Regions from separate parts of the Homo sapiens genome. Here region 1 is linked to region 2. Evidence: fine-mapped expression QTL. A gene starts in region 2. The other region holds a variant in brackets. All regions are shown on one strand. Distances are between the middles of the regions. Region 1 has its middle 4.6 kb from the start of ENEMAL. Region 2 holds the start of EHBP1L1 (EH domain binding protein 1 like 1).

What was found.
Region 1: its variant is fine-mapped to the expression of EHBP1L1 in whole blood (INTERVAL, PIP above 0.99).

What each region holds. Positions count from the first base shown.
Region 1 is chr11:65,470,215-65,475,580 of GRCh38, reverse strand. No RefSeq gene overlaps it. Among named protein-coding and RNA genes, the nearest start is that of ENEMAL, 4.6 kb to the left of the region's middle. RefSeq lists enhancers at 3,342-3,421, 3,742-4,287, a cis regulatory region at 3,073-3,632 and a silencer at 3,962-4,041. The variant T/C (reference allele first, on the strand shown) is at 2,853.
Region 2 is chr11:65,572,972-65,578,337 of GRCh38, reverse strand. It overlaps EHBP1L1 (EH domain binding protein 1 like 1), which reads right to left and starts at 2,285. Exons shown (of 19, transcript NM_001099409.3): 1 at 1,932-2,285. The coding sequence starts at 2,035. FAM89B (family with sequence similarity 89 member B) reads right to left here. Exons shown (of 2, transcript NM_001098785.2): 2 at 4,148-4,975. The coding sequence ends at 4,697. RefSeq lists silencers at 666-960, 2,011-2,110, 2,171-2,230, 2,241-2,660, 3,681-4,200 and an enhancer at 3,171-3,310.

The DNA.
Region 1 (5,366 bases), 100 kb after region 2:
AAAAAAAAAAAAAAAATTTGAAAAGGCAAAATGAAGACCAGTCCGAAAAGGTGGCCATAGGATGACCTTTGGGATTCTCTAGGCATGGCACCTCTCTGACTTATTCACCATTGATGAGGCTGGGCTCTGATGAGTAGATTGATAAGATATAGCTAGCTTCTGTCAGGTAGAAAAGATGACCCAAGATAATGGGCTTATTACCCTGCAGCGCAGCAGGTACTTTTGGATGTAACTCAGCAATCTTATTCCAGCATTGCTTTTTCAGTGCCTCTGAGTATTTCAGTCTCTCCAGTTCCCTTTGAACTAGTGTTTCCACCATTATAGTTTCTTAACACCTGAAGTAACCTTTGGTACATACATTAAAGACAGTCATGTTTATAACTTTGGAAATTATATCCTGTGACACATTTGGAGACTGTCTCACCAAGATGTCCAATTGGTTTTGGCTGCCAGAGCCAATTACACTTTGTTGCACGTGACATTTGCCTCATAGGTTCACCTGCCTCAGGCTTCCTGGCTCCATCCTGTGACTTATTATTTTTTTAATAATACCCAAGTACAGCTGGGTGTGGTTGCTCACACCTGCAATCCTAGCACTTTGGGAGGCTGAGGGGGGGTGGATCACCTGAGGTCAGGAGTTCAAGACCAGCCCGGCCAACACAGTGAAACCCTGTCTCCACTAAAAATACAAAAATTAGCCAGGTGTGGTGGTGGGCGCCTGTAATTCCAGCTACTTGGGAGGCTGAGGAAGGAGAATCGCTTGAACCCAGGAGGCAGAGATCTTGCAGTGAGCCGAGATCACACCACTGCACTCTCGCCTGAGTGACAGAGGCAGACTCCGTCTCAAAAACAAACAAACAAATAATACCCAAGTACATGGGTATTTTCTTTTAAAATTCAAACAGTAAAGTTAAAGTTGGTTGGACAATCACCTCCCATCCTAGGCCTGTTGTAAAGTTGACTACTGGCCAGTCACGGTGGCTCACACCTGTAATCCCAGCACTTTGGGAGGCCGAGGTGGGCAGATCACTTGAGGTCAGGAGTTTGAGACTAGCCTGGCCAACATGGCAAAACCCTGTCTCTACTAAAAATACAATAATTAGCCAGGTGTGGTGGCATGCACCTGTGGTCCCAGCTAATGGGGAGGCTGAGGTGGGAGGATTGCTTGAGCTCGGGAGGCAGAGGTTGCACTGAGCAGAGATGCCCCATTCCACTCCACCCCAGGTGACAGAACCAGACCCTGTCTCACAAAAACAAAAAACAAAACAAAAAAAATGGTAGTATATGGGACCACTGTCACATATGTGGTCCATCATTGATGGACATGTCATTATTCAGTACATGACTATGTATGTATATATACACATACAAACATTTATAATGTGCTTGTGAATGTGTATATATATTCATATCACACACATGTAGATATATCCTAATATATGTATAAATAGTATATACATAATTGAAATACATCATTTTAATGGTTCAAGAACAGCCTAGGCAGCATAGGAAGACTCCATCTTGCCAAGACATTTAAAAAAAATTGGCCGGGCGCGGTGGCTCACACCTGTAATCCCAGCACTTTGGGAGGCCGAGGCAGGCAGATTGCCTGAGGTCAGAAGTTCAAGACCAGCCTGGCCAACATGGTGAAACCCCATCTCTACTAAAAATACAAAAATTAGCCAGGCGTGGTGGCAGGCGCCTGTAATCCCAGCTACTCGGGAAGCTGAGGCAGGAGAATCACTTGAACCTGGGAGACGGAGGTTGCAATGAGTGGAGATCACGCCATTGCACTCCAGCCTGGGCGACAGAGTGAGACTCCATCTCAAAAAATAAAAATAAAAATTAGCTGGGCATGGTGACGTGGGCCTGTAGTCCTAGCTACTCAGGAGCATGAGGCAGGAGGATCCCTTGAACACAGGAGTTTCAGGTTACAGTGAGCTACGATTATGCCACTACCCCACCCCCCCAGCCTGGGCAACAGAATGAAACTTTCTTTAAAAATTAAAAATTAAAAAACTAAAAAGGGAGAACTATTTTGGGACATGAGTCCTACCTACCTCACTCTTTTTATTGTTTTGGTGTTTATTTTCTTTAAAAAAGAAAAAAACAACAACAAAAACAGGGTCTCGCTGTCTCTCCCAGGCTGGAATGCAGTGACACCATCCTGGCTCACTGAAGCCTCAACCTCCTGAGCTCAAGCAATCCTTCTGCCTCAGCCTCCCAAGTAACTGAGACCACAGGCACGAACCACCATGCCTGGCTAATTTTTAAATATTTTGTGTAGAGATGGGGTCTTGCTATGTGACTCAGGGGGACCTCACTCTTTTTGTTTTTTGGTTTTTTGGTTTTTGTTTTTTGAAACAGTCTTGCTTTGTCACCATGCTGGAGTGCAGTGATGCAATCTCGGCTCACTGCAACCTCCGCCTCCTGGGTTCAAGCAATTCCCCTGCCTCAGCCTCCTAAGTAGCTGGGACTACAGGTGTGCACCACCACACCCGGCTAATTTTTTGTATTTTAGAAGAGATGGGATTTCACCATGTTGGCCAGGATGGTCTCGAACTGCTGACCTTGTGATCCACCCGCCTCGGCCTCCCCAAGTGCTGGGATTACAGGTGTGAGCCACTGTGCCCAGCCACTTTGTAACTGCTAACATGGCAACACAAACTATAAAATACCTATGAATAAATTAAAGGAATGTGCAAGACTTTGTGTAGAAATTTATAATTTTTTTTTTTTTTGAGACAGAGTTTCGCTCTTGTTGCCTAAGCTGGAGTGCAATGGCATGATCTCAACTCACTCCAACCTCCGCCTCCCAGATTCAGGCGATTCTCCTGCTTCAGCCTCCCGAG[T/C]AGCTGGGATTACAGGCGCCTGCTACCATGCCCGGCTAATTTTTTGTATTTTTAGTAGAGATGGAGTTTCACTATGTTGGCCAGGTTGGTCTCAAACTCCTGACCTCAGGTGATCCGCCTGCCTCGGCCTCCCAAAGTGCTGGGATTACAGGCGTGAGCCACCGTGCCCAGCCAATTTGTTGTTTTTAAATAACCTTGTTTACAACTTTGTAATATTGATAAATTTTATAAACAATGAGATGTATGAGGCAAAAAGTGAAAGCACACACACACACACACACACACACACACACACACACACACGGACTCTGCCTGAAGCAACAGCACTGTGTATTTTTCCAGAGCTTTTCTCTATCTTTATCTTTATGAGCATATTTCTGGAACTTGCGTTTGGGGGTTGAAGTGCTTCCTCACAGGGAGTTAAGCACACCTATAAATAGCTGTGACGCATCACGGACTGTGAAAAACACTGCAGCTGAGTCACCCGGTGTGTCGGGAACCTGCGTCAGGGAGAGTCATGAGCATGGGGTGGCTTCAGAGATGGAGTGGGGCCTTAATTAGGCCCGGAAGGATGAGCTGGTGGATAAGTTGGACAGGACATTCCAGGCAGGCACTTGGTCTAGAGGTGGGCTGATCATTTCTAAATGGCAGAACCCTGACAAACGTGAGACTGAGAGTCCACAGAGGGGCACGTGGGGCTGAGCTGAGAGGCCCCCAGGGCCAGCATCCTGGCCCATGCCTTATGGAAGGCCAGACTAGAAGCCCTGGGCCAGCCCCAGGAAATAGGAAGTTTCCAGGCCGTGGACCTCCTGTGCCCCTCAGGGTGGGGGCCATGGAAGAGCTCCTCTTTGTTGCAGGGAGGGGAAGTCTGTACCCCAAAAAGGTCTTCCCATAATCCTGGAGCTGGGAGTGTGCTCGATGCACCAATGGCAAATGGTGTGCAGCAAACGCGCTCCGTTCCTGGCACTCTTACCACTGTCAAGAGAGGGACCCCAGAACTCAGGAGGCAGCCACCAGCAATCAGCAGGAGCTGGCAGGGGAGGCAGACGGGCCTCCGTCTCTCTCCCATTTCTTAAATTGGCAGATGAATGATCTGCAGGGAATGGTCTGTCCTGAGTCGCAAGTCCCAGACCTTGGGAGTCCTTCCAGGGGTGCACACTGCCCCCTAAGGAGCTGGTGCACGAGGTGCAAGCTGGGGCCCTGTGGGGAGGGCTCCAGAGTGAGGTAGGACCTTCATCCCTTCAGCCTCTCCAAATACAGACTGGCAACAGAGAGTTCCTGGCAATGGTAGGCAGAGGCCCTGAGACAGCCAGCCCTGGCTCCAGGTCCGGCAGTGAGGAGGTGAAAGCAGGTCTGGAATTAAGATTTCCTGCCCGTCAGTCAGGTCCGGTCTGCCATGGGGCTTTTTCTTTTCCCTTCAAGAACCCAAAGCCAGCCAGGTACGGTGGCTCATGCCTGTAATCCAGCACTTTGGGAGGCTGAGGTGGGTGGATCACTTGGGGTCAGGAATTTGAGACCAGCCTGGCCAACATGGTGAAACCCTGTCTCTACTAAAAATACAAAAATTAGCCAAGTATGGTGGCACACACTTGTAATCCCAACTTCTCGGGAGGCTGAGGCAGGAGAATCGCTTGAACTCAGGAGGCAGAGATTGCAGTGAGCTGAGATCGAGCCAGTGCAGTCCAGCCTGGGCAACAGAGTGAGACTCCGTCTTAAAAAAAAAAAAAACAAAAAGCAAAAAACACAAAAGAACCAAGTGATCTGCAGGAACTGAAGAGGGAGGGAAGGGCAATCAGATTCTCTGCCCAGCTCGGCCCTAACTCAAAGGTGAGGACAGGCATGACCTGGCCTTATTTCCCATGCTCTGTAACTGGAGGGCTTGTAGCCCACAGGCCGGTGTGTGGCTAACAGGGCCCTTCTTTTTTCCTGCAGTTTGCTCTGTCTCCTGTTGCGTGTGTGCCTCATGTTTGCATGGTGTCTCTGCTTTTAGTTCTTTTCTGTTCTCCTGTTGAGCCCTGCCGAACTCTTCCTGTGTTCCTGGATCCTTCTGGCCCTGTATCTTATTGCGAGACAGTCACCCCCGGGCAGGAGTGGCCTGAGTTGGGCATTTTCAATCAGAGGGACTCTCCACATCAGCCTGTGGTAGGGCCCAGGAACATGTGCTCTTCCACTGAGGCTGCTGCCTGGTCACAGGAGCTGGACCTCTGCAGCCTGTGGACATCTCTCGGGTGTCTGTGTCCTTGGCTCAGGAGGTGTCAAGCAAAATGTCAGCTTATTTGCCAGGCACAGTGGCTCACACCTTTAATCTCAGCACTTTGGGAAGCAGAGGTGGGAGGATCGATCGTTTGAGTCCAGGAGTTAAGAGACCAGCCTAGGCAACATAGGGAGACCCCATCTCTAAGAAATATATATATATATATATATACACATATTTTTGAGACGGAGTTTCACTCTTGTTGCTCAGGCTGGAGCGCAATGGTGCAATCTCGGCTCGCTGCAACCTCCGCCTCCCGG
Region 2 (5,366 bases):
GCCGGAGAAGCAGCAGAGGGTCAGCCTGTCATTAACCAACACCGCCATCCCTCGCCCACCATGTCCAGCCCTTTGCTGGGCGCAGGGGTCCCAAGGAGGATCAGCTTTCGGCAAGATGATGACAGTGGAGCCTGGAGGGCAATCAGAAAAGACTTCCAGGGGGTGACATCTAAGCTGAACAGCATATGCCAGGTCAGACATGGAGGAGAGGCAGAGGCAAAGCCAGAGGACAGAGATGGCTGCGCAGGGCCCATTCCCAGGCACTGAGTGGACTCATGGCTGGGCCTGGGGGCAGAGGGCCCCTTGGGGTTAGATGTTCAACTGCTGCCCAGGAGGGGTGATGCTTGAGGGGACGATCCGGCCCAGGGCAGCACGCGAACTGGCCTTGCCTGTACCCAGCCCCATGCCTGCACCCTCTCGTGATGCTGGGGTTTGCCCAGCTCACTGTTCGTCTGAGGCCAAGCCAGGATAAGTGCCTCTCTGTTAACCCTGAGGATGCTGAGGCCCACAGAGGTTTGGAGCCAAACAAGTTTACACGGTTGAGCCTAGAGCCCTCCAACCCAGAGCCAAGTTCCCTTCCCCAAGCCCAAATTGCCAGCGATGGCAGAGCAAGGGTAACTAAGGGGCCTTCCCAGAAAGGGGAAGCGGACAGGGGGTGCCTAGGGAGGGCAGGGCTTGGCTGGGCAGCCTGACTCAGGCTGGGCACGCCCTCCTGGGAAGCTGCAACCTGGGCAGGGGCAGCTTCCCGGCCTGGGCTCCAGGCTAAGCAGCCCAGGAGGCCCTACCCACAGCCGCCTGTGACTCAGCTGCGTTGACACTGCCGGCACCCTCAGCCTGCTGTGCCCAGTGTTTCCCTGGCCTCCCGCAGGATGCTGGAGCAGGAGCCAGAGGCCAGAGTTCAAGTGCCAGCCCCCAAGCTCTCCCAGGCTCTGCTGAAAGATGTGAATGGCCCTCTAGCAGGCCCAGTGTGGGCAAGGCCAAGGATATGGCAGCTGCCCAAGGGACCCCAGCCTCCTGCTTACTCCCCTCCCCCTGGACCCCATGGTCCCTTCCTGCCCCAGCCCTTCCCCTGGGGAGCCTAAATTTAGCCCCGCCTGGCGGGTGAGGCCCCCACAGCTGTGCCCTAATCCAGCCAAGGGAAGCTGACACCAGCAAGCACGTATATTTAGGGTGTGACGCAGGGGCCTGGGCAGCTATGGGTGGCGGCATGTGAACGAGATGCCCCTGAACCTGTTGGTAGTCCAGGCTGGGGCCTGCACCCTCTGGTGAATCACCCCTCACCCTGCCACCTTGCCCTCCGCAACCCTCTCCTCCCGGACCCACAACCTCCTAGGTCCTCAGGCCCCTTTAAGCTGCTCCCCGCCTCCCTCCTCAATCCTCCCAGCACTCAGTTTCCCCTTTTAAGGACATTGTGGAGATGTTTCCAGCCTCCCAGCACTCTGGCTGAAGAGGCGGGAGTTGGAGGGGTTCTTCTGGCTCAACAAGATGGCAGGGGAGGAGGGGGCAACATCTCTGTTCTTAGCTGGACTAAGTAAGGTCAGGGAGGCTCCTGCCCCAGCCCTAGCCACCTGCAGACCTCAAAACTTGATCCCTTTTCCAATGCCACCCTGAACCACCTTTCTGGCACAAGACATGCGGCCTCCCTCCCCCAGCCCTGACCGCAGCTGAGGAAGGAGTGGACACAGGCAGAACCTCAGGCCTGAAAGTCCTGACCCCCGCGCAGGGAAGGCTGCCCACGCCCCCAACTCCAGGGGTCCCACAAATTGCAAGGGCACTTCTGAATCTCCGAGCCTGGGAACGGAACCAGGGCCCAAGCTGGGGTGGGGGCCCATTTGGTCATTGGGCTGGGGGGGCAGAGTCCTCTCAGGCTCAAAGGGCCGGATGAGGTCCCAGCAAGTTCGGGGGAGCCCCCCCGCCTCCCTCCCACTCACCATTTCTTGGTGCACTCCAACACTAGCTCGTGGTAACAGGCCACGAACTGGAACTTGGCCGCCCGCTTGCCCACGCGCTGCAGGCGCTTCCACACCGAGGTCATGGCCCCCGCCACCCCGCCGCCCACTTCTCAGGCCCGGGGCTCCCGCTGGCCCGCCACCGCTGGCCCGGCCCGGGTCCCCATGGCCTGTCCGCGCCGCCCGCCCCGTCCGTGCGGAGGTGTCCCAGGCTCCGACCCGGGACCGCGCTCTCCGCTGCCGCCGCTGGGGCCCGCAGGGTGGTCTGGCTGAGTCTGCGGGGTCGCCTGGGGCGCGTCGGGTGGCGAGCGCGGAGCTGGGAGCGCGCCGTTTCCTGGAGCCGCACCCCCGTCGGAAGGCGGGCGGGGCTCCGGCGCGGGGCGGGGGCCGGGGCAGGAGCGCGGGGGCGGGGCGACCCGGCTTCCGGGGCCTCGCGCCGCGACCCGGGAGCGGGAGCGGGGGCGGGGGAGGGGGGCGTGGAAGGGGTGTCGCCCGACCGCAGTGCCCGCTCGGTGCGCGCAGAGGCTGCGTGGAGAGAGGGCAACCAGCAACTTGGTGCCACCCTAGAGAGCGCTGCCCGGGCCGCCTTCCTTCCTGCCCGCAGCCCTGGGAGGTACGTACTACTGGCCCCCTTTCAACGGCTGGGAAAACTGAGACCCAGAAAGGGGAAGGGACTTGCTCAGAGTCATACTGTGAATGTGGACGAGGACCAGCTCTCAACTCCAAGGTGCAGCCACCCACGTCTTAACCAGAGCAGGAAGGCGTCAGTAACCTCGGTGGCCCAACCTCAGAACCTGACTCTGCTGTCAAGGGGGAAGATAATCCCAAACCCCGACAAGTAGCTGGAGAATCATAACTGACCTCCAACCAAGTGTGACTTTGGGCAAAGCGCTAACACTCTGAGCCTCAGTTTCAACGTCTATTAAATGGGGATAATTGTAGTTCCGCCTTTTAGGGAATCCCTGAGAGGATGAACCTCAGAAGGCATTTAGCAGAAAGCCTGGCTGATTTTGCCATGCCTCCTTATTAAATGGGATGCGCTATAATGGATGGGGAAAACGTGTCATTTTTGTGTATGTTTACTCTCCCTCCCCAGGAAAGCCTGCCTGGAGCGTTAGCAGCTGTGAACCCCTAGATTAGAGCCCTTATCGCCTACCCACCCGCCCTGCATGGTAATGAGCCTCTGCAGGTGTCAGCTGCCCTGGGGCAATAGGTCAGTTTGTTCCTTCCCGCTGCTCTGCAAGGTGTGTAAATGGACAGGAGCCCGGTGCGTGACTGCTACTTGGTTTAACGGGATGTCTGAGTGCCAGGACTGCCATCTGGGCTGCATCTCCAGGAGGCAAATGGCTGCAGCAGGGCGCGGGGATGTGCTGTTCGTCCGCACACCTCGGTGTGCGGCTTCACCTCTTTTCAGGAGGTTGTGAGGTGTCGTGTGCGCGTGTAGGGGGCTGAGTACCCACTGTCTCCGAACGTGCTGGCTTCTTCCGGTGGGCTTGACAACTGGGTTTGGTTCTCAGTCCCAGCGGTGTGGGTCCCCGGTTTCCTAAGAAACCTTCCACAGATAACTGTAAAGACCGCTAGTGCTGTGGGGAGAGCCGGCGGTCTTCACAGACTGAGCGGGGAATACGGGTCCCTGGAACCCCAATCAAACTTCACCGCCGCGGAGTCTCATGCTTGGCCTCCGGGAAGGCCCGAGGTGCCGCGACTTCACTCCCCTCGGCCTCTGCCACCCCTCCCTCCCACCCGCGGGGCGTGAGGTCCCAGGCCGTTCCCGGAGGCGCCTCCCCCGCCCCCGCCGGGGCCCCTTGCTCCGGCGACTCCGGCCACCCATTTCCTGCGCCGCCTCAACCCCGCCCCGCGCGGGGTGGAAAGTTTCCCTCCTCAAGGTGGGCGGCTCCTTCTCCTTCCTTCCCGGCAGGCAGGGAAAGCCCGAAGCGAACTGGGAGGAGGGAGCGGGGGACTCGGAGGTCGCGGGCGAGAGAGGGGAAGTGACTCGACCGCAGTCACCCGGCGGCTGAGCCAGGCTCGGCCAGCAGGCAGCGCCCCCAGCCCCGCCCCGGCGGGACGGCAGGGCCTTCACTCGGCGCGGGGCGGGGGGGGAGGGGGTCTCGGGCGCCACCTGCTGGCAGAGCGCGGGGCCGCACCTGCCACAAACACCGCGGTCTTCCCGCCCCAGAGCCAGCCAGGCAGAGCACAACGACGCTGAGTGTATTTATTTATCTACGCGCCCTGGAGACCGGCCCCTAAATTTAAATATCCAGCACGGGGCCTTGGCCCTCCTGGCCGTGGGTGGTTATTGGGACGGGTCCTGGAGCCCTTCCAGGGCAGAGGAACCCAGAGCCCGGAGGTGGGATGCCCCTGAGCCAGCAGCTGCCGATAGCAACAAAAGGTGAGGAGGAGATGGGAGCCAGGCACTCATCCCAATCCCAGAGACGCCAAGCGGAAGGGAAGATGCTTCGGGCCCCACCGCAAGGCTGAGGGTTGGCCAAGCTGGGGGTGCACACATGTGGAAGAACTGGAGGCCCAGTGCCATGAGCAGAGGCTGTACCCTAGATGCCCGCCCCAGTGCCAGCCAACCCAAGACAGGAGAAAGAGTTTGGCAGTTTCGCCTCTGAGGAATACATGCCTGGCCCTCCTGTGAGGTGAGGCGGTAGGGGGGAAGGCGCAGGCTCCGAAGTCTGAGGGCTTGCCGGAGGGGGAGTTTCTGAGCCTTTTGCATGGGTGCATGCCCCCTGCCCCCCAGCCCTTCAGAGGCTGATGTGGAAGGCATCCTGCAGCCACTGGTCACGGGCATTGTGCGTCTGGGGCACAGTAAGGGGTGGCGGGTCAGGAGGCAGGCTGGCATCGGGAGGCTCCTCGTCGTCAGACAGGCCCGCATCCGGTGGGTAGGAGCTGTCCGAATGGAGGGAGGATGACAGGTCCTGGCAGAAGCTCAGGTCTTGGCACAGGTGTTTGTAGTCCTGGATTGACTCGTACAGGCCCCACAGCTGGCACAACAAGGACATGTCCAACTGCCGCAGCCCCACCTGCAGACAACTGAGGGTGGGCTGGAGTTGGGGTCCAGGCCACCCCAGCCCAGCCCCGCCCCCTGGAATAGTGGGCCCCAGCCCATCTTCCCCGCACCTTCCTAAACGAAGTTTTTGTGGACATCAGGCACCACCTGCAAGCTATGCAACTTTAGTCATGACCCTCACCCAAAAAATGGGGTTATCCATTTAGCCGGATGAAATGAAGTAACGTCAGCAAAACATTTGAAAATATATGGTAACTACTGCCATAATTGGTAACTATCACTAATTATTGTTACCATAACCCTTGCAACCCAACTGGTGCCTGCAAGTCCTCTGAGACCCAGGCCGCCTGTCCCAGTCCCCTGCGTTCCTCCGCGTCAGCCCCCCGCCCAGCTGGCCCGGCGCC